2 separate regions of the Homo sapiens genome follow, and region 1 is linked to region 2. The links come from fine-mapping of genetic effects on gene expression. A gene starts in region 2. The other region holds a variant in brackets. All regions are shown on one strand. Distances are between the middles of the regions.

The links.
Region 1: its variant is fine-mapped to the expression of PITRM1 in esophagus muscle (GTEx, PIP above 0.99). The same link has a PIP of 0.9 or more in uterus.

The regions. Positions count from the first base shown.
Region 1 is chr10:3,145,558-3,148,469 of GRCh38, reverse strand. It overlaps PITRM1 (pitrilysin metallopeptidase 1), which reads left to right. Exons shown (of 27, transcript NM_014889.4): 17 at 179-299; 18 at 407-483; 19 at 733-898; 20 at 1,220-1,320; 21 at 2,754-2,874. It overlaps PITRM1-AS1 (PITRM1 antisense RNA 1), which reads right to left. Exons shown (of 4, transcript NR_038284.1): 4 at 1-2,912. Among named protein-coding and RNA genes, the nearest start is that of PITRM1-AS1, 5.4 kb to the right of the region's middle. The variant G/A (reference allele first, on the strand shown) is at 1,282.
Region 2 is chr10:3,171,072-3,173,983 of GRCh38, reverse strand. It overlaps PITRM1 (pitrilysin metallopeptidase 1), which reads left to right and starts at 1,202. Exons shown (of 27, transcript NM_014889.4): 1 at 1,202-1,267. The coding sequence starts at 1,212. RefSeq lists an enhancer at 1-189 and silencers at 388-547, 838-1,677.

The DNA.
Region 1 (2,912 bases), 26 kb after region 2:
GAACTCTCGAGGGCGAAGGCCAGAGTGCACCTGCTTATGACCTTCGAAGTGTAGAGAGGTTGGCAAAGCCGCAGTTATTGAATTAATGGAAGCAACTTGTAACTCAAGATGCACGATTTTAAAAATGATTCAGTAAAGACTGACTTGTAATCGGGGCGATGCTTCTCTGCTGTGTCAGGCTGGGCTGCGGCCTTCTTGACTACCGGGAGCAGGCTCAGCAGATAGAATTGAAGACCGGAGGGATGAGTGCTTCTCCCCACGTGCTCCCCGACGACTCACACATGGACACCTACGAGCAGGTAGCCTGGTACCGTCAGACGACTGCTGCGGTGGGAAGCTTTTCTCCAGTGTCTGTCACTGTTCGATTCGGCCCTAATTCCTTTCTTCTGTGTTTTCTTTGGTTCAGGGTGTGCTTTTCTCCTCTCTCTGCCTGGATCGAAACCTGCCAGACATGATGCAGCTATGGAGTGAAATATTTAACAAGTAACTTTATTTGCAAGAGTTGTCCATTCTTGGGGTGTACTAGAGATCTTTGTTTGAAGTACTTTAAAGGAGACAGTTTTACTCGTGTGTGTTGTTGTTTTCCAAGTCTGACTTTTACTTGTAGTTCATATGGACTTATAAAATTTCTTTGGTTGTTAAAGTACTCTGAAAACTTAATCAACTTTCCATGATACTGAAGGGACGTGAGGAATGGGTCTCCAGGAATTTTTTCTTCTCCTTTTTCCATAGCCCGTGCTTTGAAGAAGAGGAGCACTTCAAGGTGCTGGTGAAGATGACCGCCCAGGAGCTCGCCAATGGAATTCCTGACTCTGGGCACCTGTACGCATCCATCAGGGCAGGCCGGACCCTCACGCCCGCAGGGGACCTGCAGGAGACCTTCAGCGGGATGGATCAGGTGGGAAGCTTGGAAGGAACCTCTATTACTCCGGTTTAGCCACATATTCCAGAGTTACTAATTTCTTTGGGAATACATTAATTTATGTCCCAGAAATGCTAACTTTCTAACTGACTAAATATGGGGAAGAATTGGTTGGTTGGTTTTGACTCATCTTCCTCTTTGTACCACCCTGCATCCCAGTTCCAGCCCTGCCCAAGCCGTGCACTCGCACACATAACCCCTGCCCAAGCAGGGTTCTGATGTCACAGGTGCTTGGTTCAGACTCAGCGGGTCTGTTGTAGCCTCTGCCTCTCTCTGAGCGAGTTTCCTCTGGCTTAGGTGCGGCTGATGAAGAGGATTGCAGAAATGACAGATATCAAACCCATCCTGAGGAAGCTCCC[G/A]CGTATCAAGAAACACTTGTTAAATGGTGATAATATGAGGTGCATGTGTGATTTGTTTCTAAATATTTTATGATTCATTCTATTAAGTATAGTTTTTAGGTATTTCTTACTTGTAGAAACTTCAAGATAGAGTGCTTGGTAAAGGTTATAGAATTTATTGTAAATGTCAAGTGTTCTAACAAACTAAGAAAATATTTTAAGCCTATTAAAAGTTGTAGGAGATGGGGAAGAAAGCAGGCTAATTTTGTGCTAGAAGTGCAAATAGATTGAGGGCAAGTAGTTATATTGCTTCCAAAAGCACATGGTCCGTAACTGAGGTATCTGTAAAGGTGAGCTTGCTGAAGACCAGAGTAAAAGTGCAGTTTCTTATAAAATTATGTGATGCTTTGAGGAAACATCTGGCAGCTCAGTCCTATACCTTCAGTTGGCCTTATGCCCTCAGATGTGTGAGCATGAATAAAGTTTAAAAATGATTGTTTATTTTCAGCATCTTATTGTCAGTGACATTGATGTATTCATCAGTACTTAACAAGAAAATGTTTGCTGAAGTCACTTGTCCTTCTTCACACAGAGTCCTGATGCCTTTCCCCAGTCATGTCCTGAGAATCCCTGGCAGATTCTACAGGGCGGTCTGTGGGTGGCCAGAGGTGAAGCCTGGCGATCAGGGTCTCTTGGCATTGGGCTCAGGCAGGCCTGGCTTCTGGTGCCGCCGGGTCAGCACTCACACTCGCTCCCAGGCGGTCCTGGGCAGCTGACCCACTTGCGTCTTCTGCTTCCTCCTCCATAAAACCTTCCTTTGCAGGTTTATCGTAAGGAATAAAAGAAAGAATATCTGCAAGGCAGCATACATGCCTGGGATATAGTTAGTATTAATATAATGGTACCTGCTGTTACTTTAACTAGAATAAGTTCAGGATTTACAGCTGAAAGGAAAAAATATACACTCTGTCAATATACTGTAGAGTTCAAGTAGCTTTTATATGATAGTAGTATTTGCAATTCTGTGGAATTTGGAAGAGTTCTATTTTCATGTAACTTTGAGAGCATGGTATTTTTTTGCAGTTTATAATGTTCTGCTTTAACAACCAGTTCACATTTTCAAATTGATGACTTCTGGACAGTAATTTTAAAAGTTGTCAGTGTTTTGATAGTGTAATTCCGAAGGCACGGTTAGCAGATCTTAATAGTCTCTGTATTTTCTTTGCTCTTCAGAAGAACTAGAGTTTAGAGTCACAGGCTCCGCGTATGGACGGCTTCATTAGCTGCCACATTGAACTGTGCGGAAATCTCTTGATAACCTGAAGCACTGAAGAGCAGGGAGGCGGCCGTGGCATTTCCACATTTGGCTGCTGTTTAACACTCTGAACAGTATTTTCTATAAAAACAACATTATTGAGTTATACAAAATGTGATGAATTACTAAAACTGTTTTTTCTAACAGTGGTTTTATGTATACATAATTTTTCAAACAGGTGTTCAGTGAATGCGACTCCTCAGCAGATGCCTCAGACAGAAAAAGCGGTCGAAGACTTCCTTAGAAGCATCGGTCGGAGTAAAAAGGAACGGAGGCCTGTGCGCCCACACACGGTCGAGGTATGCACTGGTGGTGCTGGCGCCCGGTGAGCGCCTGG
Region 2 (2,912 bases):
TGCAGAACCACCCACTCCTACGGGGGCCTCCTTCAGCCTCTCTGGGGGTTCCCAGAAGGGCCCTTGGGCACTTGGGCAATGTCAGGGGGCTCAGGTGCATCTTCCTAGACACGAAACGAAGAGGAAAGCGGAGGCAGCAGCGGGGGCCACAGGCTCCCATGCAGCAGCTCGGAGCTGTGCTGTGCTTCGCTGGCGGCCATCCGTGATACGTGTGACACCGTGGGGCCCTGGCCCTGGGACCTGCCATGCAGCCTTGAGATCTCATCCAAGAAGCCCCCAGACCCCAAGGTTCAGGCCTGGCGGGGCAGCAGAACGCCTTTGGAGCTCAGCTCAGCCCTACAAACAGGACCAACGCCCACACCAAGGCCAGAGAGGGCTACCAAGTTTCACCTGGCCCAGCTTCCGGCAGCCCCCAACCAGGCCACTACCCTCACCTGAACACCGCGGTCCATCACCAAGCCCCACCCACTTCTGCCAGCCCTGCCCCCACAAGGACCCACCTCTCGCATGCAAGCCCCGCCCCCAAGGCCCAGCTCACCTGCAGCCCCGCCCCACCAGGCTCCACCCCATCGCCTGCAAGCCCCATCCCCAAGGCCCAGCTCACTTGCATCCCCGCCCACTAGGCTCCACCCTGTCACCTGCAAGCCCCGCCCCCAAGGCTCAGCTCACTTGCAATCCCCTCTCCCACTGGTCTCCACTCCTCACCTGCAAAGAGCCACCCCTCGCTAAGCCCCTCCCATCACTTGCACAGCCCCACCCAACACAGCACGCCATTCCAGGAGCCCCTCTTTTCACCAGCGCAGCCCCGCCCTTCACCAGGCCCCACTTCATCTGCATACACACGCCTCTCGCCACGCCCCACTTCTCGCCTGCCCACTTCCCCCTCCTATCATCTGTCCACATCCTGCTGCTGGCCGAACCCCGCCCCTTTCGGCAAGACGGCCCCGCCCCTTTCTACCCGTACCACGCCCCTCGCCTTGCCCGCCTCCTTCGGCACGTCGGCCCCGCCCCTCCCGCCCATCTCCGTCCGCACCGCCCTCCCGCCCGTCCCAGAGCAGTGGAGGCCTACCCTTTTCACCTACAGCCTATCGCAGAGGACGTCGCTGTTCGCGTTGACCAATAGGAGTGGTAGCTGTCACGGCAAGCCCCGCCCCGCGCCCTGCGTCGGGTTAAGAGGGGGTTCCTCGCCAGCCAGGTGCTCGTCATGCGCAATGTGGCGCTGCGGCGGGCGGCAGGGCCTGTGTGTGCTGAGGCGGCTGAGCGGCGGGTGAGACGCTGCGACGGGAGGCGCTCGGCGCGCTGGTACCCGGGAGGGGAGGGTCCAGGGCAGGCCGGAGGCGTAGGGGTCCTCGTCCCTGCGCCCGGGGCTGGCAGCTCCCCAAGCTGTGGGCGTCCCGCACCCCGAGCCCTTCCTGGAGCTCCCGCATCCGAGGCTCCGAGGCCGGAGGACCTCGGAGCTCCTTCCTACTCCCAGGGGCGATGCCCCGGGCTGGGGGCCGGGCCTGCCCGCGGCGCTCCCGGCGGGGCCCTCCATTAGCGTGGGCTTTAACGGGGGTAGTAAATGGGGTCGGCATTTGCGGTTCTCGCTGACAGCTTTGCTCCTAGTTCATTTTTGTTGGGAGGCCGAGTCCTTAAGAGACCCGAGGCGCCCACAGCCCATACTTAAAGTCTCGCTGTGTTCAGAGAACTGACGCCTCCCGGAATTGAACTGTTTTGTTTTTTTAATGACTCAATTTATGGGGAAAAAAATGACGAAGCAGTTTAGTGTTCATGGTAATCCACGAGCCCGTGTTTAATATAAGGTAATAGTTCAGCGCTGCCGGCCCAGGCCGGGAGGCACGGGGCGTCCGTGGCATGAGTTCGGCCTGGCCTTACCGCTCAGGAGTTTCCTATCATGTCCTTGATAAGTAACTTCTTAAAACGCTTCTGTCCCATAATTCTGAAATTTGCTAAATCAGTAAGCAAATGTTGGTTATAGCATATCTTCATAATATTGCCAGTGACTGAATAGGTTTTTTCTTCCTGTACATATTATCTTTAAAATAAATATTTCGGTGGGATACATTAATGTAGAAAATCCCATACGACATATAATACAATTGGAGAGAATAATAATTACGTGTTTTTTAAGAGCAGGGATCTTGCTCTGTTTCCCAGGCTGGTTTGATCCCCCTCCTCAGCCTCTCGCATTGCGGGGTTACAGGTGTGAGCCATCTCATTCAGGTGAGAATAATTATTAGAAATAGGTTGGGCGCGGTGGCTCACACCTGTAATCCCAGCATGTTGGGAGGCCAAGGCGGGCAGACCACTTGAGGTCAGGAGTTCAAGACCAGCCTGGCCGACATGGTGAAACTGTCTCTACTAAAAATACAAAAATTAGCTGGGCGTAGTAGTGAGCACTTGTAGTCCCAGCCACTCAGGAGGCTGAGACAGAATTGCTTGAACCCGGGAGGTGGAGGTTGCAGTGAGTCGAGATTGCACCGCTGCACTCCAGCCTGGGCAACAGAGTGAGATCTGTCTCAAAAAAGAAAATTAGTGTCCCTGTGACCAAGTTGAAGATTCCCCTAACTGCTCGTAACTCTCTCCCTCCCTCTTAGATTATCACGGTCATAACATACAGAAATGTCCTTGCTTTTTTTTTTTTTAATATTTTACCATTTTTATGCGTTCTGACAATGTCTTGTTACCTATTTGAATAATACCTGTTTAGGATAATACTGTATCATGTGTATCTTTTGTTTCACGTTATGTGACCCATATCTTTGTTACATGCCACTGTAGGCCCTTATATTGGTAAGGTTTTTTTTTTTTTTTTTTTTTTTTTTTTTTTTTTTTTAATTGAACGATTAGTCCGCACTTTATCCATTCTCTGTCGATACACCTCCGGGTGAGTTGAGTTTGGGACTGTCAGG